3 separate regions of the Homo sapiens genome follow, and all the other regions are reported to be linked to region 1. The links are microRNA targets in miRTarBase. Many come from high-throughput screens and were not tested one by one. Region 1 holds a microRNA gene; each other region holds the end of a gene's coding sequence.

What was found. Region 1 holds the annotated microRNA hsa-miR-26a-5p (UUCAAGUAAUCCAGGAUAGGCU, at 2,059-2,080, opposite strand). A microRNA usually pairs through its seed, bases 2 to 8, with sites in the 3' UTR of a target mRNA and lowers its output. Matches are read on the target gene's strand: a 7mer-m8 pairs with bases 2 to 8, a 7mer-A1 pairs with bases 2 to 7 and ends in A, and an 8mer does both.
Region 2: the mRNA of KDM5C is a reported target of hsa-miR-26a-5p. The part of its 3' UTR that is shown has no 7-base or 8-base seed match.
Region 3: the mRNA of MAD2L1 is a reported target of hsa-miR-26a-5p. Seed matches in the 3' UTR shown: 7mer-A1 at 2,127-2,133 and 8mer at 4,682-4,689.

Annotation. Positions count from the first base shown.
Region 1 is chr3:37,964,295-37,971,492 of GRCh38, reverse strand. MIR26A1 (microRNA 26a-1) reads right to left here and starts at 2,089; the gene lies at 2,013-2,089. CTDSPL (CTD small phosphatase like) reads right to left here. Exons shown (of 8, transcript NM_001008392.2): 4 at 6,821-6,922; 5 at 3,611-3,667; 6 at 1-86. RefSeq lists enhancers at 1,294-1,855, 1,856-2,419.
Region 2 is chrX:53,186,244-53,193,441 of GRCh38, reverse strand. KDM5C (lysine demethylase 5C) reads left to right here. Exons shown (of 26, transcript NM_004187.5): 25 at 1-5; 26 at 110-1,284. The coding sequence ends at 475. Among named protein-coding and RNA genes, the nearest start is that of MIR6895, 5.6 kb to the left of the region's middle. RefSeq lists enhancers at 3,564-3,613, 3,984-4,263 and a silencer at 4,444-4,523.
Region 3 is chr4:120,054,499-120,061,696 of GRCh38, reverse strand. It overlaps MAD2L1 (mitotic arrest deficient 2 like 1), which reads left to right. Exons shown (of 5, transcript NM_002358.4): 4 at 720-823; 5 at 1,407-6,074. The coding sequence ends at 1,579. Among named protein-coding and RNA genes, the nearest start is that of MAD2L1, 8.8 kb to the left of the region's middle.

The sequences.
Region 1 (7,198 bases):
AAGCTGGCAGTAAAGAGCACACATTCAAAAAGCTGCCCCATCCTCTGGAGGAACTCGTCCACATGTGGCCGCTTCAGCACATACACCTGCAATGGCAGGAGACAGCAGGCTGGTCAGATGTGGCAGTTGCTGGGGATGGCCTGGGGCCCAAATGCCCACTGTAGGAAGAATTGCTACAAAGGTTCCTGCCTCCCTCCCCCAGGTCTATGCATAGCAGGCAGAGGCCTAGACTGTATGAGGGGCTATGGAGTCAGACGTGGCACTCCTCAGACAGGGCTCCAGGTCTGAGTTCACTGCAGACGCCCCTCCTAAGGGAAAAAGAGAAGCTGACCATGGTGTGAGGGTCTTGGGGATATTCAGGGCCAGCAAATGGAAGGGTTGTACCATGTTTGTGTGTAATGACTCATTCATTTCACGTGTGTTTCTTGGCACCTGCTGAGGGTCAGGACCTGTGTGGGCACGGGCCACGGTCTGGGTGTTGTCCTTTCAGAGGTCCAGGCCCAGCATATTGCCCAGCAGGTCTGGGATTGCTCCGGCTGCCACCTTCTGTTCTGGATGGACATCCCCCTTACTAGGAAGGTCTGGGGTTGAAGCACAGGCCCAGCAAAGCTGCAAGAAGGGGCTTCCTTGTCAGCTTGGGAAGCTGTCTATGACACCATAAAGGGTGGGCTTGGTATGTTTCAGGGGATGTGAAACCATCGCTATTCCTGGACCCCAGACATAATCCATCAGGAGGGGTCTCTGAGCAGAGGGGTGCAAAGAGTAGCCTTTTCTAGAATGGCTGGGCTCTGTGCACCCTTTTGACCAGGCCAGGCCAGGGGGTAGCAGTGAGGAGGCCAGGCTTCAGACCATACATAGGTTCTTGATTAGGGAGCCTGAATGAATCTGGGGAAACAAGGGAGATGGGAGAGAAGGCAAAGCTGGTGAGAGAAGACAGAGGAAGTGGGAGGAGGGAAGAACTAATTCAAACTTGAATAAATTCCGTTTGAAATTAGCCACTTCACTAAAATAAATCAAACTCTTTAAAATTCAATTCAGCATGTTTACTGAGCCTCAGCTCTGAGCTCAGCCTGATGTAGTTGCAAAGATGAATAAAACACAGGCCTTGCCCTTGAAGAGCTCATACTCTAGAACAGACATAGGCAAAAACATATAAAAATAAACATGGCATAATGAAAGTTGTAGTAGAGGGATAAATTAAGGACAATTAACTCCCCTCACAAGGGGAGGGGATCATAGAAGATAACATTTGGCCTGGACCTTGAAGGAGTTCACCAGGCCAATAAGGTTGAGAAGAAGTGGGCTTTCAGGCAGAGGAAACAGTAGAGGGTGAGACCCGAGGCCTGAGAATACTTGAGAAGCTAGAGAGTAGCCAGGCTGTGTGCCCAGCCATCAGAGGTAGTGAGAGAAGCCGGAGCAGCAGGGTCTGGGAGAGGAAGTGGCTGAAGATGAAGTGAGAGGCAGGTCACAGTGGGCACATTAGGGCCTTGAATGGCAGATGGAGCAGGTGAGAATGGCAGGAGGAGCAGCAGAGGGGAGATGAGGGCTCTGCACCACATGCTGGGTGTGCTGCTGGCCGAGGAATTCTATACAGAACCAAGTCATTTTCAAGGTGCCAGAAGCAGGAGCTCAGGAGGGCCAGGACTCAGTGGGAAATTCATGGGTGACTGAAAGAAGGAGGTGGACATGGATTTGTGGCTGAGGGTGGAGCGAGGGGCTGGAGGAACAGGATGTCGTAGCACGGGTGCCAACACAGCTCTGAGGAGCTGGGAGGCTGGGGTAGGGCTGAGGGCAGGGCCTGTGGCTGCAACAGCTGCAGACTCCCACTTTGCCCACAAGACTCCTCGTTGCCAGCAAACGGGTGTGGCCTGTAGTCCTCAGTCACCCTGGGAGTCCTGCTTGGAAAGCAAGCTTTGCTACATGCAAAGGGCAGGAGACTGATTTGTGAACTCTGGTGTTGGTGCCTCTGGCAGAGAGGGGGGTCCTGAGCCCGGATGCCGGCGTCCAGGCCCGCGTCCCCGTGCAAGTAACCAAGAATAGGCCCATTGGGACCTGCACAGCCTATCCTGGATTACTTGAACGAGGCCACGGCCTTCGCCAGGGCCTTGGTCCTCCTGCTCTTGGCTCCTGTGGCTTCATTCCCTCGGGAGAGAATTTCTGACCCCAGCCCTGGGACCTTGTGATATCACAGCACAGCCAGGATGGAGGGTGGGGGAGCTCCTGCAAGAATGGGTCAGCAGTGGGCAGGCCAGTCATGCTTACAGTCACGTGGTACAAAGGATTAATTTCTCTCCTAATTCTTGCTATGCCATTGGGCAGCCTCTCCTTTGTCTCATCATGAGCACTATGTAACACAAGCCAAGATGATAAATGCAGAAGCCTTAACTGCTTCTCAGATGCTGAGTTAATTCAGTTGATGCTTTTGCAAATGTTAAATGCCCAAGTGCCTGCCGTTTTGGCTCTGTGATGGCTTTTAAAAGCATGAAGTGTGGAAACACTAGGAAAAAAGCTGCCTCTCCCCGGGACTGTTTCCTGGCAGGATGTCCTGGAGAATAAGCAAGAAAGCAAGGACATGGGAGGGAAGGGACTTGCGTATCAGGAAAAGAGCCCTGGGCCAGGAGGCAGGAGACTGGAATTTTCATTTTAATTCTTCCCATCGTATGACCTTTAACCAACCCCTTCCCTGGCGGAGCCTCAGTTTCTCCATCTAGACAATGAGGCAGCTGGACCAGCTGATTCCCAAGCTTTCTCCAGTTCTGACACCTTGCACTCAAGAACCAAAGACTACTGACATTGCTAAGAAAAGACATCCCGTTGTGGCTCAAGTACCAGGAAAGTCTCCTTCCTGGGATATCAGGCCAGATACGCTCCCTTTAAGACCTTGGACTTGACAAGGAAGATGGTTAGATCATCCCTGTGGAAAATCTGACAAAAGCCCCCCAGCTTCAACCTCTAAAGCTAGTTTTCCTACAACATTCCCAATTTGTTCATAAATGAAGTTATTTCCGGAAGAGCTTTATGCAGATAAGGAAAAAAAATCAGAAGCAACGAAGACGCATGCCAACTGACTACGGCATCTTTATTCATAGCAGCCTGCGGATCCGAAAACTCACACCCTTCCCCCTTTTTCTTTTGGGGTGGGTATTTGCTAAAGATTCTCTGGAGAAAACGATGCAGGAATGATAAGATCAGTCTGGAGCAGCTGGCATTGAAAATGGACACTTTTTCCCGAGAGTCCACCATAAGTGGGTGACTTGTGGCATTTTCCTGTTGCCTGCTAGGAGAGTAGCCGAAAGCAATTACACAAGGAAGTTAATTAGACCATCAAGCTAGGCCAGTGGGGGATACGGAAACTTCTGAAATTCAAATCAAAGAACTATTTGAACTTGCAACCGCATCTAATATTTACGACTATAGTTTCCTTATAATCTCAGTATAAAATAAATTCATTGGAGTGAAAAAAAGAAAAACATTGTATTTATTACAGTATGCTTCCTTTTGATTCCGTAATAAAGTTATTACTGAAATGAGAATTTAGAAATAAAGTTCATAGGAAATGTAAGTACTAAAAAATCTTAATTGAAACTCAAATTTAGCTTCAGTTTCTTACCTGATGTATAGTTCCATCGATTTCAACCGGAACAATAAAATCAGCATTACTAATAGGCTAGAGAAAAAAGAGACTATAATTAATATGTCTGAAGGAACAAAAAAACTCTGGAAATTTTAGCAAGAAAAAAGCCTGCCTAGACCAATGTTTTGGTTATTGGAAAAAACAGTTCAGGAGGAGGATGATGAAGCATGCCTTGGTTCCTTAAAATAAGCACAAGCAGGAAAGCACATTATTTTCCACTGTGAATGTCATTACATTTTCAGCATCTTGGTCCAATATCACCTGCCTGGCCTCAACCAAAAAGTGTGGCACTGCCTGGCTAGAGGATGGGGCTCCTGAAAACTCCAGCTCTTGCCCAGAGTCTTGCTGGGGTGATGGGGAATCACTGCTAGCCACCAGGGGGAGGAGCTGAGCATGTAATGGGCTCCGAGGACAGTGCTGCTTGAGGGAAAACTATTTGTACTTGGACCCACAACTGGCGGCTGCCCTGCGATGGGCTGCTCAGCAGGAGAAGATGGCCACACGGACTCAAAACAGTAACAAGGCCATGTGGGGGTAAAGTCAGAGGCCGCAGGCCACACCCTTGGGCAGGCTCTTCCTCTCCTTGGACCTCAGTTTCTCCTCTCTTCCTTAGCTATTGTGATGGGTCTGATGCATGCCCATGGCCCCAGTCCAGTACTGAGAATCAGTGATTTCAGGCCCTCCCAGGTAGCCTGGCACCAGCTCCTGCCTTGGGTGGGGGTACAGAGCCAGCCCACCCTATGCCTGCTCCGCTCCAAGGAACACAACATCCAGCACACCCACAAACTTCTGGATATTTTAAATAACTCTTTGACAATATTAATGACATTTAAAATTCAAATATGATTCTTCAGCAGTCATTACGTTCTCAATGATGAACTTACACACAGTTCTCAATGGAATTCCACAAATTAGGTACAAAACTACTTAAATGAACAGGCCCAACTGAATCATCAGCCTGCAAACCCCTGGACAAGAGAAGAGAGACAGAAGGAAGGAGAAGGTGTGTGTGGTGGCCTCTGGGCAGGGGTAGGGGTACAGCATCTGGTCAGACTCTGAACCGAAGTCTGCTTTTAAGCCCATCACAGTACACACAAACCCTCTTTGTTGATATATAAACTAAAAAACAAAAAACAAAAAACAAAACAAAAAAACATGGACAATGCTAGGTCATAGCACCGTTACTAAGCACTTAGCTTATGATCACTGTTTATTTACTCCCAGAGTTGGAAGGCCAAGGATGAGTTTAATATCATATAATTGCACAACTAAAATCAGAATCATGCTAAAAAACAAAAGGAAAGACTGAAGGAAGAGACTCTCCCAAGGCATTAGATTATGGAATCACATTCCACGGAGTATATTAAAAAGAGAAAAACCATTCCCCAGCTTACAGCAAGCACCACCCTTACTCTCCTCTCTCCTGCTGGTATAAAGGAGACTCTGCTACAGCTAGGGTTCTTCACTTGGGATCCATGAACCTATGCATTGTACAAATGTACATTTTCGAAGGGAAGAGGGTTCACAGCTTTCAGATTCTCAAAGGACTTTGAAATGCCCAGAACTTTAAAAACCATAAAGAATATTCTGGTTGCAAATGTAGGCAGGCCAGGGGAGGGAAGAAATGAGGAAACACCATTCACATTAGCTTGTGGCATCAATGCTCTCCGAGCAGGTGCTAGAGACACTGGGGGCTACCAGGGCCTTGCCTTTGGAGCCAGGAATCCTCAGTAACATCAGGTGATCTGGCCAGTGTTGCCTACACTCCCACAGTTGCTTGGGAGGGAGTTCTCTATGCTGTGATGGCAACCGACCCCTGCTCTGAAGGGCTTTCCTTCACAGAGACTTGGAAAAGTCCTGAGCAACTTGCCCATGGGGGAGAAATGGCTTCCAATGCTATCTAGGGTTAAGCTGGGACACAAAGTCACCATATCCCCTGGACCAACTATGGAAGGGGCTGGTCCTCAAGTGCTAGGGAATGAGGTGGTCCCTGCATGCCCCAGTAGCCAGAACAAGGCAATTTCTCACTGCTAGAGGTCAGTGTGGTCTCTTCTCCACTCTTCAAAGGACTCAAAGACAATTTTCTGGCTTTGTCCTACCAGAAAGGTCTCTGTTTAGTGAGAAGAACAAAGAAGGATGTTTCTGGTAGAAAGGTGTTTGGGCACATTTGACAGCTCTTCTGCTTCCTACAACTTGTAAGGAATGACTATGGTTCATGTGAGACACATGCCCCATCATGGATGGTGACCTTCATGTCTCTCAGTGAAGGGGAGTCCCAGGCTGGTGGGGGAAAGAGGAATGCAGTACAATGATAGAGCAGTCCCATTACCAGAAATAATCCAAGGAAAACAAGACCAGAATCCTAAATACCTGCTTCTTCTCCCCAAAACACCAATCTCCTATTTCCAAACTTTTCATCATTTGCCTCTTTTATACAATTTATTTCACGTCAAAAAAAAATGGTTAACTAACTCATTTCTTAACAGTGTCGCCACAGCTCTTCCTGCATGGAGGCCGTTTCTGCTGTTTTTCCAGCAGGAAGATGGAGATCAGGGAAGGTGACAGGAAGGAAGAGTGTCTGACCTCCACACCCTTCAGGAGGGAAGTCCTGAAGGTGGGTACTCATTTAGCTGTGAAGCTTGCAAAAAACCCCAGCCACTTCTTGTCATGAAGATGCTCAAATTAAATGGCTGAATCTGTTCAGATGCCCTGAAGTCTGGAAGTCTTCTTCAGAGTTGGACATCTTTCAAAAATCAATCTGGGAAAATCTCCATGATACCAGGTCATTTGACAGTTTCCAACAGAGACTCCCCTCCCCCTCCCAATAAAACACATAGCACTCTGGTCATCTTGACAAATATAAACAGTATCCTGGGGGCACTGAGTGCCTTGTGCCACCTGAAAAGTATTTCTGCAGCGGTTACAGCATTGGAAAATGCAAACCTCCTAAGAATGAGGTCCCAGTGATGTTGGTAGCTTAGTGTTTTCTTTCCAAACTAATTATGTTAATATTCAACTACTTTAGTTAATGTTCACCTGGGTTAATAAGCAGCTCCTGGGATTTCTACATGAAGAGTGAAGTCACACACTAACCACCATAAGCTTTCATCCTTTTTGTTTTCCCTTTTCCAATACAATTGTTATCAAATCACAAAGATCATGGATTTTTTTTTTATGTTGATTTACCTTAAACGAACTGTGCACCAATGTTTCATCTAAATCAATGACCACACATTTCTTTCCATAGTCAAGCACCGTCACCTCTGGAAGAAGGTACTTAGCTGGTGGCTAAAGGGGAAAAATAAATCAGTATTACATTTATGTAAAAGACAAACCAATCAGTATTGCATTATACTACTTTCAAACATTTAAATGCCTGGTCAAGCGTATAATGGGCTTTTATTAAGAACAATAGGAATAAGTAGTTTGCAACTAAAGTTTTATCAAATACGGTGCCACGATCTGAATGACTGCTATGAAGTCCTAGGCTTTGGAACCAGACAAACCTGGTTTCAATCATCAGCTCTGTCACTTTCTTGGTTGTAAATTGGGATAGTAATACCT
Region 2 (7,198 bases), not on the chromosome of region 1:
TGGAGGTGAGGAGAGGGGTCATGGGCCGGGCCAGGAGGTCAGGCCGAGTAGGGAGCCCAGGCCTGACCACTGGCCCACAACCTGTCTTTCTGCCTGTCTGTAATCACAGCTGGAGAAGGCAGAGCGTCACGGGAGTCGGGCTCGGGGCCGGGCCCTGGAGAGGCGGCGGCGGCGGAAGGTGGATCGGGGTGGGGAGGGCGATGACCCAGCCCGAGAGGAGCTAGAGCCAAAGAGGGTACGGAGCTCAGGGCCAGAGGCTGAGGAGGTCCAGGAGGAGGAAGAGCTGGAGGAGGAGACTGGGGGTGAGGGCCCCCCTGCACCCATCCCCACCACTGGCAGCCCCAGCACCCAGGAGAACCAGAATGGCTTGGAACCGGCGGAAGGGACCACTTCAGGCCCCTCGGCCCCTTTCTCCACTCTGACTCCCCGGCTGCATCTGCCCTGCCCACAGCAGCCGCCTCAGCAACAGTTGTGACAGTGGCTGAGCCTAGCACAGACCCTGACAGAGACCCCCCTCGGCCTCAAGGATCCTCTTTCTGACCATCAAGCCTGCTTCTTGGGGGGTGGGCGGGTAGGGGGGTGGCCATCCCTGCTACCCGCCCACCCCTGAGTCCCTTGACTTTTGTATTCTGACTCCAAGGTATTGTTCAGACCTCAGCTCCTGGGGGCCGGCCCCTGGAGTCTTCCCTCCCTGGTAGCCTCTAACCAGCATTCCCAGACACCTGAGGCAGATAGATGGATGGGCTGGTGGGCAGGGGGGTGGCTGGGGCTGGGCCATCACCATTCCAGAGACAAGGCCAGTGTATATGCAAACTGGGGGACTCTCCTCCCTTCTCTCCCCAGTTCTGGTCCTGGCCAGGCCATGCTACACTAACCCCTGCCCCCACTCTCCTCCCCTCTTTTCCTTCCTTCCTACCCCCTTCTCCCTCTCCCTTCCCCTGACTGTTCCACCCAGGAGGAGGAAACTTCACATAGCCGTGCTCACAGTTTTTTATTTTAAAGGAATTTGGCTGGGGAGCTGAACAGGGCTCCCTGTGATCTGAAGAAAGCTTTTGGTGCTTGTCCTCACAACCACCTCAGTCCTCCCTCCCTGTCCTCCCCTGTCTCCTTTCCTCCTCCTGGGTTCATGTTGTAATAAAAGAAGATTGTTGGTGTGTAATTAATTTGTTCAAAAGAAAAAAAAAAGCAAAACAAGAAACTTGGTTCCAACTGAAGCCTATTTTAATTTTATTTTATTATTTTCCTCTTGTTAGAAATAAAACCCTTAGAAACATTTTTTGGAAACATGTTTCTGAAGTGCATTTCTCTTAGACGGGGAAGACAGTGCTTCCATCACCAGTCAGTGGAGCAGCTGTAGTGCTGGCAGGAGCACTAGGGCTGAAGCCAGGGAGCTCTGGGTTCTGAAATCAAGTTCCACCAGCTTCTTAACCTTGGGCAAGACATTCTGATCCTCCCCCGACTCTAACCCCAAGCCACTTTCCCTCAAGTCCAAACAGATGGGCTCGGGCCCCCTCACCCAAACTCCTACACTACAACCTCCCCCAGTTGATGCCCTCCAGTTTATCCTCCTCAAGCTCCCAAAGGGATTTTTTTGTTAATGGCTTTATTGAGATATAATTTACATACTATAAAATTCACTTGTTTGAAATGTACAATTCAGTGATTTGGGGGGTTTCTAAAGTGTAGATCTGATTATATACTGCTTAAAACCTTCCATGATGCTTTATTGCCCTTAAGATTATACATAGAATCTCGTTCTTCCTAGAATGTTTTCCTGTCTAACCCATCTACTGCATAATTCCCTGATTTTTCTCCACAGGTTATGCCCCTGATGAATGGGGACTAAAGCTCAGATGTGTGGTCATTTGCAACCCCTGAGTTCACTTTTTTAAGACAGCTTATTGATATATATAATGTACATACCATACAGTCACCCACTTAAAAGTATACAATTAAATAGCTTTTAGTATATTCAGAGTTGTGCAGCCATCATTCGAAAAAAAATTTCAGAACATTTTCATCACTGCAGAAAGAAACTCCATATCCCTTAGGCGTCCTTTACCCCTCATCCCATTTGCCTATTCTGGACATTTTACATAAATGGAATCGTATAATATGTGATCCTTTGTGTCTAGCTTCTTTCACTTAGCAAAGTGGTTTCAAGCCCATTAATGGTCCCATAGTAGTTGGAAAGATCTCTCTTCTGAGTCCCAAAGTCTTTAAGATGAGGGTGCTGGACTAAATCAGGGACCATCAACAGATTGTTTACATGTTTTTGTGGGTGTTTGCATGCATGTGTTTTTCTGACAAGAAGACTAACCAGCTTGTATCAGATTCATAAAGGGATCCTTGACCCTCCAAAGGCTAAGAACCATTCTTTGTGGTCTTGAGTGTTCTGTGTTTGGAGTCTGCCCATGATACGAGGATACAAAGGAGGAAGCAAGAGTATGGAAGCCCTAAGCCAGTCAGCTTCCTATCATGCCTGCCTCAAGGGCTTTCCGTCCTCTCAAGGGGCTGTGAGGAGGCTAAAGGCTGGGTCCTGATCCCTAGCCCAGGAGCTTAGCACACTGCCACTCTTATTTTGCTTTCTCATCTGAACGTTCATGGGTTTCATTCCCCCTTCCCAATATTTGCAGCTGATAGGAACCTAGTGGTAAATAAGAAAGCCCGCCCTCTTCTGGCAGCTTTGATTGGTGGGAAGGTCTGGCTCAGCCCTGCTTCATCTAGTCTTCCAGTTGGGACCCTAGGCTATACAAGTAAGGAGAGAGAGAGGAGTCCGTGGACAACCCTGCCGGGTCCAGCTTGACCCCAGGTCTCAGTCTAGGGGAAAAGGCTGACCTTTTGGCTGGAATTGATCATGAAAAGGGGGTTGGAGGAGCTGACAGGAGAGATGAGTGTGAGAGCTGGGATGGGCAGGAAGGGGCTCAATCTCAGCACTTAACTACCACTGCCAAGGCAGTCAGCCACAGGAAGTGTCCAGACAGGAGAGGAAGAGATGGTGCCTACAACCTGAAGCAACTCCCAGGTTAGAGAACTGCTTGGCCCAGGACGGAGGCCTCCCTGGTATAGGCCCATCCTTCACCAGTTTTCAGACAGCCTTTACCATGTTGGCACGTCTGTGTCCCATCCCTCACACACTCCTTCACAGCAGACATGCATTCCATGAACTCTGCAGGAGAGGCCCTGGCCATCATCCTGCAAGACCCAGATCAAATCTAACCTCTTCCAGAGAGCTTTCTCTGGTTCCAAATCTGCCCTCTTTCCCAGATACTCCCCTAGAAAGGGAGGGGGACTGGCTCAGGGGACACCCTCCCCCTCAGATAAGGGGCTGGGGAGAATGAGGTCAGGGAAGCAGTGGGTATCTTCTCACCTCAAAGTCATTTTCTATTATAGAGATATCACCTAGCTGCCGAGTCCTCCCAAATGTTGCCACATCCCTCAGGATGGCTCCTGAATCTGCAGGTGACAAGGGGATGGAAAGAGACATCACTTCTATTAAGGACTTTACCCAAACCCTTCAGGCCCAACTGAACCCTTCTTCCCCTTCTCCTTAGTGTCTCCACCTGTGCCTTACCTGGTGTCTGAAACACACTAAGATTAATAGGTCTGTCTCTCCTCCCACCCCCAAGCTCTGGAGCTTCTGGAGGGAAGGCAAGGCCCAGGCCTCAGTCTGTCTCCACTTCCAGGCCAAGGGCCCGCAATCTAGCTTAGAAGGAGGTAGGAGCATCAGTTGGGGCTCCACACTGTGCATATGACTCTGTTTCCTTTGCATTGCAGAGTCCAGTGGTACAGGATACCACCCCTTGGGAGTGGCGCCTGGGGTCTGAGGTACATGGTCAGTGGGTCCTTGAAGGGGCAGACACTAACCATGCTTCCCAGAAGACCTGAAATTGTGATGGGAGAAGAGGGGTTAGGAAGCAGAGGAACAGGGTTCTTGCCCCTGGGCACTCACATGAAAGGAAGGGGAACAGCCCCTTGTGAACCTCCACCTGGGTGCTCAGCTCCATGTGAGGTATTTCACAAAGTCCCCAACAGACACAGGAAACAGACCCCTAGGAAAACAGGCCTCACCTAAGCATATCAGCCTGGCAGAGCTGGGATTTTCACCAAATCTCTGTGACCCTAAGGCCTGTGCTAGACAGAAGGGGTCCAAAGTAATCAGCCTGCAATCCGGAAATAGTTCACAGTGGGAGCTCAGTGTTGATCTCTGCTGTTGGTAGGTTGGGAATTCAGCAGTGCTAGGGCCACAGTGGCCTTGGTAGGTTAGAAGTTCATATTGCCGAGGTACATAACCTCCACGCCTATCTCTATTGGTTATATATTTGCTACATAACAAATTATCTCAAAAACAGTGGCTTAAAACAACATTTTATCTCACAGTCCCTGTGGTTAGGAATCTGGGCACAACTTAGCTGAGTTTCTGTTTCAGGGTCTCACAGCCAGCAAGGTGTGAGCTGGGGCTACAGTCATCTCAAGGCTTGACTGGGGAAAGATCTGCTTTCAAGCTGACTCATGTGGCTGTTGGCATATTCAGTCTTGCTGGCTGTTGGCTGGGGGTCACTCTCAGGTTCCTTGCCATGTGCACCCTTTCATAGGGTGGCTCATAATATGGCAGCTTGCTTCATCACAGCAAACAAGTAAGATGAGCTAGAGATAGAAGGAGAGTGCCCACATGCCAGACAGAACTCATAGTCTTTATAACTTAATTTCAGATGTGAGATCCCATCACTTTTGCAATATTCTATTCGTTAGAAGTAAGTCAGTTACTGCCGGGCACAGTGGCTCACACCTGTAATCCCAGCACTTTGGGAAGCTGAGACGGGCGGATCACCTGAGGTCAGGAGTTCGAGACCAACCTGACCAACATGGAGAAACCCCATCTCTACTAAAAGTACAAAATTAGCTGGGTGTCGTCGCGGGTGCCTGTAATTCCAGCTACTCAGGAGGCTGAGGCAGGAGAATTGCTTGAACCCGGGAGGCAGAGGTTGCGGTGAGCCAAGATCGCGCCATTGCACTCCAGTCTGGGCAACAAGTGCAAACTCCGTCTCAAAAAAAAAAAAAGTAGGTCAGTTACTAGGTCCAGGCCACACTCAATGGGAGGGGATTACACAAAGGTGTGAATACCAGGAGGCGGGGGGTCATTGGGGGTCATCTTGGAGACTGACAACTATAGTTTTTCCACTGGTCCTGGTGATTCATGTTGCTTCCACATGCAATATACATTCACCACTTCCCAAAGTCTCTCAAAGTCTCATCCAATTACAGCATTGCCCCAAAATCCAGAACATCTAAATCAGGTCCATATATGAAAGAGGCTGTTTGAGTATGGCTTCTTAACTACTATTTTTCTCCATCTTTAGATTTGTGAGACAATTGTTTTTTTGTAAAAAATTATTTTTTGGCCGGGTGCAGTGGCTCACGTCTGTAATCCCAGCACTTTGGGAGGCCGAGGCGGGCGAATCATGTGGTCAGGAGATCGAGACCATCCTGGCTAACACGGTGAAACCCCGTCTCTACTAAAAATACAAAAAATTAGCCGGGAGTGGTGGTGGGCGCCTGGAGGCTGAGGCAGGAGAATCGCTTGAACCCGGGAGACGGAGTTTGCAGTGAGCCGAGATCACGCCACCGCACTCCAGCCTGGGCTACAGAGCAAGACTCCGTCTCAAAAAAAAAAAAGAAAATTATTTTTTATTTTTATTTTGTTATAGAGACGAGATCTTACTATATTGCCCAGACTGTTCTCAAACTCCTGGGCTCAATCCTTCCACCTTGGCCTCCCAAAGTGCTGGGATTACAGGCATGAGCCACCGTGCCTGGCTGATTTGTGAGACTTAAGAGGCAAGTTATCTGTCCCCAACACACCCTAGGTACAATGGTGGGATAGCCATAGGACAACTACTACAGACATTCTGGTTCAAAAAGAGGGGAAATGGGAGACATAAAGGAGTTACTGGTCTATAACTAACAACTCTGAAATCCAGCTGGGAAAATGGAAGTTTCTTGATTAGATGTCAAGGCCTGGGAATAATATTCTAAGGCTCTGCCCTCTGATCTCTTGGTTTTACCCTGTGTGCCTTCCTTTTTCATGAAAGGCAGCAAATGTTTGCAGCTGAACTGTTTCCCCAGTTTGCTTCCTGCCAGTAGAATTTTGGGGGTCCAGTGGCTTTTTTTCATTTTGTCTTGTCTGTAATCAGCTGCCACCAAGAAATAGTTCCACAGGGGGGCTTGGGTTACTGTTCTGTTGGCAGGTTGGGCACTCAGCAGTGGCTTATAGCCAGATTGGTCGTGGTGGAAGTCCATATTGTGGAGTCCATGCATAACCTCCATGCCTGCCACCATGGCCATTTTGTTCAGGAATCCATTGGGCAAAGAAAAGGGTGACAGATAAGAGGCTGACTGACATCACAGAACAGGACACCTACCTGTCTACTTGATTGAGCTCCTCTTCTGCAGTGGACTCTCTCTGGTGCTTATTTATGTGGGACGTGAATATCTCTGCCCATTCCAAGAGGGACAGCCATATGCTCTTCCTCAGACCTTGTCAATAATATTTCAGTCCTGTTATTTCCAAGTCCTTCACCATTTAGCCGAATCATTAAAAACTACTCATGAAACAGTGGAAACCTATCTATACCTCTGACCAGCTATGTGACCAGGCAGTTGTTCTACTGGGAGAATTTCCCTTCTCACTGTCCTTCAGGATCAACCCTAAGTAGGGCTGTAACACTACAGCTAGCTACTTCAGCAGGGCCAGCATATCATGCAGGGCTATGTATAAACCAAGCTGGAATAGAATATTGTATCCCTTAGTCACCTGGTCACAGGGAATTCCCCATGAGGCTTCAGGTGTGGGTGAGAGAGGGATGGCAGTACAGCAGTTGGGAGTATGATTCACTTGCTCAGGCAGCTTATTCATCATCTAGGCCTGCTTGTATAACTCTATTCTATTCGGTGGTGGAGTGCTACTGCACATAGATAACTTCGTGGCTTGATGAGACAGTTAACACACAACTCACCATGGGGAGCTCAGCTTGCCTGGGTCACTTGGAGTCCTATGCTCAGCCATTCATTCACAAAATAGACCCACTTTTCCATTTTTATTTTTCTCTGCTCCTGGGACTCCTGTTGTCACGATATTGCCACCTCCAATTTTATCCCCCATTTCTTGAATCTTTAACTTGCTCTTCAGCTGTAGTCC
Region 3 (7,198 bases), not on the chromosome of region 1:
ATGATATACTAGATGAACCATTTAATAATTGTTCTAAGATATTTTTAACTATAAGGAATGATATTAGACTCACACAATTTAAGATGTAGCTCTGCTGTACTTCCTTTAATGCCATCTACTTCCTAAGACACTTCATAAATTTCTGAAGGTTCCAGACTCCCTGGAAGAGAAATGCATTGTCCTAGGCATGCTCTTCTATAAACTGAGAACCATTTCTTATAGTGAAATGTAGTTTGCTTCTGAAGGCTTTGGTGTATTTTAGGAAATTTTTAGCTTATAAAATAATTTGATATACAATTTAATGTTTTATTTGAGAAAATAGGAAATTAGACATTTAGGCATTACTAAAAATGCTGAAATGATTATACCAATACATATTTTAGATATCACTTATTTTTATTTCAAGAGATGCTGAAGTTTCCTGAACTTGAAGTGATTGGCAAATTTTCTAGTCATCTGATACTAAATGACCTGACACTAAGACCAGCTCTAAAAGATGACTGGCAGGATAAATGAAGTAATAAGGATGAATGTTGTGCCTACTAGGTTGTAGGTCTGAAGGATACTTTCACTCACATTTTTTACAAACCTCCTTTCTCAAATAAGCCCTGCTTATTTGATGTTGAGAGCATTTAATCAGATAAATAATCTAACCACTATGTTTGAAATAATTTGTTAAGACCTGAAATGAATTAATTGATTTGATTTTTTTTTGACAGTGCACCCAGAGAAAAGTCTCAGAAAGCTATCCAGGATGAAATCCGTTCAGTGATCAGACAGATCACAGCTACGGTGACATTTCTGCCACTGTTGGAAGTTTCTTGTAAGTATTATACAACTTCTTGTTGAATTAAATTGATTGGCAAAAAGACTAAGCTACTGCCGTAATCACCCCTTTATTAAATTTTGTCTTATTTATCAGATTTATGTAATATAAATTGAAGGAAAAACATTATCATGCAAAAGTAATGTATCGTAGTCTCCCTTTCCACAGGGAGACCCACAGTGAATACCTGAAACCATGGATAGTATGAACCCTATATAATGTTTTTTTCTTATGCATACATACCTATGATAAAATTTAATATGTAAATTAAGCATAGTAAGAGTTAATAATAAACTGGAACAATTATAACAATATGCTGGCATCACTATTCTTGTGCTTTGGGACCATTATTAAATAAGATAAGGGTTACTTGAACACAATCACTAAATTGCACGGAAGTTAGATACAATATTTTCTTTACTGAAATAAATGTTCATTGAGCAAAATAAATTAACTAGTGATTGGAGACCAAGCCAAATGACCTTTTCCAGCAGTGAGTGGTTCAAAATAGAAGAGAGGCAGCAAGATTAGTTTTACTTTTAGAAAATAATATACTTCAATGATCTTATCCCCAATTTAGGTTCATTTGATCTGCTGATTTATACAGACAAAGATTTGGTTGTACCTGAAAAATGGGAAGAGTCGGGACCACAGTTTATTACCAATTCTGAGGAAGTCCGCCTTCGTTCATTTACTACTACAATCCACAAAGTAAATAGCATGGTGGCCTACAAAATTCCTGTCAATGACTGAGGATGACATGAGGAAAATAATGTAATTGTAATTTTGAAATGTGGTTTTCCTGAAATCAAGTCATCTATAGTTGATATGTTTTATTTCATTGGTTAATTTTTACATGGAGAAAACCAAAATGATACTTACTGAACTGTGTGTAATTGTTCCTTTTATTTTTTTGGTACCTATTTGACTTACCATGGAGTTAACATCATGAATTTATTGCACATTGTTCAAAAGGAACCAGGAGGTTTTTTTGTCAACATTGTGATGTATATTCCTTTGAAGATAGTAACTGTAGATGGAAAAACTTGTGCTATAAAGCTAGATGCTTTCCTAAATCAGATGTTTTGGTCAAGTAGTTTGACTCAGTATAGGTAGGGAGATATTTAAGTATAAAATACAACAAAGGAAGTCTAAATATTCAGAATCTTTGTTAAGGTCCTGAAAGTAACTCATAATCTATAAACAATGAAATATTGCTGTATAGCTCCTTTTGACCTTCATTTCATGTATAGTTTTCCCTATTGAATCAGTTTCCAATTATTTGACTTTAATTTATGTAACTTGAACCTATGAAGCAATGGATATTTGTACTGTTTAATGTTCTGTGATACAGAACTCTTAAAAATGTTTTTTCATGTGTTTTATAAAATCAAGTTTTAAGTGAAAGTGAGGAAATAAAGTTAAGTTTGTTTTAAATTTGTCTTAAAACATTTTGATACTGGTTTGGTGTTGATATAGTTAAATGGTAATTAGAATTGATTCAGCATAGCTAATGAATTCTTGTTCCTACGAAGTTATAGAACTTAAGGGTCCAAAGTTGAGTGAGTCTTGAGGTGTCTTCAATCTAATGGATAAACTTTGATCACATCCTGTTCATCTCATAGCAATAGACTTAAGGCTATTACTTCATCATTGTGAAAAGATAAATGTCCTTTGGAATTAGTCCAACAATTCCAGTTGAACAAGTGTTGATTTTAGTACTTTACTATACTCTTAGCCTTATTGTCAGCCTACTTTTCCTTATATACTTAAATACTATGCTTATTCCTGTGCTTTCATTAATACCCTCATCTGGTACATGCTTTCTATCCAGTTCTCACCTGTTTTTCCAAGGTCAGTTTAAGGCAGATTTGTAAAGTCTTCTCTAATCTCTAATCTAAATCTGACCTCATTTTGTAAAAATTCAGTTTATTAATGTTTATTATTAGACACTAAGTTCTTTATGTGTATTAACTTATTTAACCTTCACTATTTTTAAGTAATTGCACATAGTCTGAATCTGTTCATTCAGAAATTACATATTGAGCAAATACTGTGGATCAGTGGCAGTTTCTGGGTTCTCAGTGACAAATTTGTAGACTCTTCATATCTTTATGGAATAAGTGGACCACTGGTGTTACCAACCTAGATGATTTCAAGAAAAGTGGCAATTAAATGCTTCATTTGTATTTTAACTATTTGAGAAGTCAGACTAAATTCTGCGAAATCACTTTTCCCCCCCAAGATGGAGTCTTATTCTGTCGCCCAGGCTGGAGTACAGTGACGCAGCTCAGCTCACTACAGCCTCTGCCTCCCGGATTCCAGCCATTCTTCCGTCTCAGCCTCCTGAGTAGCTGGGATTACAGGCACGTGCCACCACACCTGGCTAATTTTTATATTTTTAGTAGAGAGAGGGTTTCACCATGTTGGCCAGGCTAGTCTTGAACTCCTGACCTCATGATCTGCCCGCCTTGACCTCACAAAGCATTGGGATTACAGGCGTGAGCCACTGCGCCCGGCTGAAATCACATTTTTAAAGGTTGTGTGTATACTCTGGTCATTTCAACTCAGCTACCAATATTAACAGGATTAAATTCTTAGATTTTTGTATCATTTGCATGCTACTATTTACTCTGAGGTTTCTGGAGAGCTAGTCATGATGAGTCATTTTACCCCTTACAGATTATATAATCAATTAAGAAATACACATTTTGGGCTGGGCGCAGTGGCTCGCGCCTGTAATCCCAGCACTTTGGGAGGCCGAGGCAGGTGGATCACGAGATCAGGAGTTTGAGACCAGCCTGGCCAAGATGGTCAAACCCCGTCTCTACTAAAAATATAAAAATTAGCTGGGCGTGGTGGCGGGCGCATCTCAGCTACTTGGGAGGCTGAGGCAGGAGAAATCGCTTGAACCCATGAGGTGGAGGTTGCGGTGAGCCAAGACCGTGCCACTGTACTCTAGCCTGGGCGACAGAGCAAGGCTCCATCTCAAAAAATAATAAATAAAAAAGAAATACACATTTTGGAGCTGAGTGGGAGCCAAACTATGAGTTTTATTGAGGTGAAGCTATACTGGAAAAGCTTTGCCCTGTAGCTCCAAGTGGACTGTCCCATCCTCTTTCTAGACCTTGAGGCTTACCTCAGGAGGATGATGTTTAAATCAACAGCTGAAAGACTTGTGAGTGGTTTCTACACCATGTTAAAGAGAAGGTTCTAAGACAGCATGATAGGCCTCTAGGCCTGGCCTGGACTCTGGCTCAGTGTTGCTTACCATATGTAGAGGATGAACAGAGGTTAAGCCCATCAAGGTCTGAAGTAGAGCCCAGGAGGAACTGAACTGTATCTGGCTTTCAGGATCCTTTTCCCAGTGTCATCAATCAGAGAAGTCAAACCTCTGTGAGAATGCTTGTGCAGAGGTATAACAGTCTCATGTATTGGTTGGCTTTTGCTGCACCTTTCTCATTCTGTTGGAGGGACATTGGTTAGTCAGGACTCTGAAGGCCAGCTTTTTCACACTGACCAAAGCAAGTGAAGGTCAAGCCTAACTTTAATGGGACCAGGAAGTATACTCCTCCCATGGAGGTGGTGGGAATGGCACCGAGAAGTTTGATGACAGTTATCTAATGGACTAGAGGTTGGCAAACTTTCTGTAAATGGCCAGGTAGTAAATAGTTCTGCTTTTGAAGGCATATGGTCTCTTGCACCTACTCGAGGCTGAAAGCAGCTATAGACAATACATAAATGAATGAGCGTGAGTGTGTTCCAATAAGAAAAAAACATGGCTGTTTGCTTCGGCCCCAGGGTTGTAGCTTACCAGTCCTGTAACAGATCACAGTTTGCTCTTTTGGTCACAAATACTTGAACCCCTCCCTAGTTCAGAGCATTTGATACCGTAATATTTAAAGCTCACTTGTAAAACATCGTTTGTTGCCTCCATCCATAGTATCTCAAACAGAATGTCTCTCCCAAATATACCTAAATTCCATATTCTCTGAAGCACAACCAGCTATTTTCTTGACATACTTCCTAACACACCCCACAGTTCACAATTTGATCTGAAAACTTGTTAAGGGAGGTTCTTTGGCATGTGATGCCATAAAAAGAGAGGTATGGGCTCTCCTTTAAAAAAGAGACCCTTTTTATGAGACTCACAATAGGATAAAGAGCCCATGCCTATTTTTAATCATTTTTTCACTATATAGACATGCATGCTGAAAAATGTTTTTATTAGTATAATGCTAATTATACTGACTTCCTATATATTTTAGCATATAGATTCAAAGATTATTAGCACAATAAGGTAGATAACTTCATAGACCATTTCTTCATCTTGTTTTCATTTAGTATGTAAAATTTATCTAAAATTTACATGAAAGATCAGAATAGCTATGTAATGCTACTTTGTAACTCTTATATTTTCCACCAGATGTCACTAATGCTGTAATATTCAAATTAAGATGACTTTCTTTTGGTTCTAAAGGCTGTAAGCTTATTGGAAAAGCAAGGTTACTCAGCATTGGAATTCCTGGCAACAAATATATAAATACATTAGGGGAATAAACACTTAGCATTTATTATTTACTAGTCACTTCACATGAATTTTTATTTAATTCTCATGCTTTTGTGCACAAGTAAAACTGGGGGTCAATGGGCATGCAAATTGTGTCGTGGTTTTTGAAGTTTAGTGGTCTCTCCTATCCCTGGCCAAGGAAGTATGCAAATTGTATTGTGGTTTTTGAAGTTTAGGTGATCTCTTCCTTCTATCCCTAGCCAAGGAAGTTCATCCTGACTCCCCAACAAGCATATCAAAAGGAGTGTTTCGTCACCTTTTTCCTCTTACCCTTTACATCCTTTTAGCAATAAAGTGTTCAGAACAAACTGGTTTTCCTTTACTGTGCTTTGCAAAACTTATTCATGTTTTATTGGGTGACTTTGTATTTACACTTTCCTCAGATAGTCTGTTGTCAGATGACTTTGACCAATGATTGGGAGGAACCAAATACAGAGGATTTTATCCTATGCCTAATCTATATTGTCTACAGAGTAAATCAGGTATGAATTTGTGAACAGTAATGAAACAATTTTCCAACTAATCAGAAGAATTGTTTGTTAAGTAACCTTAATTACTCAGTTTTTGGTGAATTGTTTGCGGCTTAACTTGTAAATAATTTCTTATTCTTTTTTTAAATGTATGAAATATTTCTAGTTATTTTGTTCAATGTGACTGATAAAAGTTTATATTGGAATAGCTGTGAAATGGAAACTGTCTACTCAATTTTAAATTTTATTAGTTATATATTTTTAAAAATAGATCTTTTAGAGATATTTCCATTCTTCATAATTATGACTTTTAAAGCCAGCAGTATTCACTGAGGCTAAAAAAAAAAAAAAAAACAAACGTAGTTGGGCAAGCTACTTAATCTTCATTAGAGTTGACAATTCTGTTCCAATCTGGCAAAAACATTGTAGCCCTAGCAACAAGACTATTAGAAAAGGCCTAGAGTGAAAAATGTCAGAGTTGACCCTCTGATTACACAAGTTGGTTTATGTTACCATGTCACCTATTTTTGTCCTCCACCATGTGATCTATTTTTATACCAGAGAAACATAATATAGTTACATTTACTTGTACAAAGCCCATTTCATCTACATTTATCTGCACCATTTTGCTATGCAAGCTTGTTTGCACAAAGGAACTTACATGAGATCAAAATCTTATTTTCTTGGAATTTTATCTGTGTGGAAAAAGGCATCCCAAATATAAGCTGGACCACCCATAGTCCATTTCCTTGCAAGGGAAAGAGTCCAAACACTTTAAAAAACTTTCTAGATATGGACATATCTAGTGGATGCCTAGACATGGATATGAATTTCTTTCTGAAATGGCAGTCTCACTGACCAAGTACAGATGCTAGTGGTTTTAAAGATTGGGTCTGTGATGTGCAAAATATTTCATATCTAACATGCAGTTATTGGATCACTGTGTTCACACTCATAAGAGTCAGTACAGCTCTTTAAAAACAGGCTGTAAAGCTTACAGCCTCCAAGTCTAGGAAAGGAAATTCATGGGTATTGATCATCTACTGTATGCCAGGCACCACTGAAGTGCTTTACATCTGTTCAGCTGACTCCTAAATGAATGGAGGTTGGGGTTAGTGGGGAAATGGAAGACTTGGGCCACAAGCTGTGGTCTTAGAAACTGATGATGGGACATGGGGAGAGCCATGAGATAAAGGAAATTAAGTCTGAGTTCCAAATGAGGAGTCCTCTGGAGCAAGGAACAGCCCCCAAACCTCAATTTAGGGCTGTGAGGGAGAAGAGGGTGGGGAGAGAAGGACTGCATCCAAAATGGAAATTCTACAACTCCGCTGA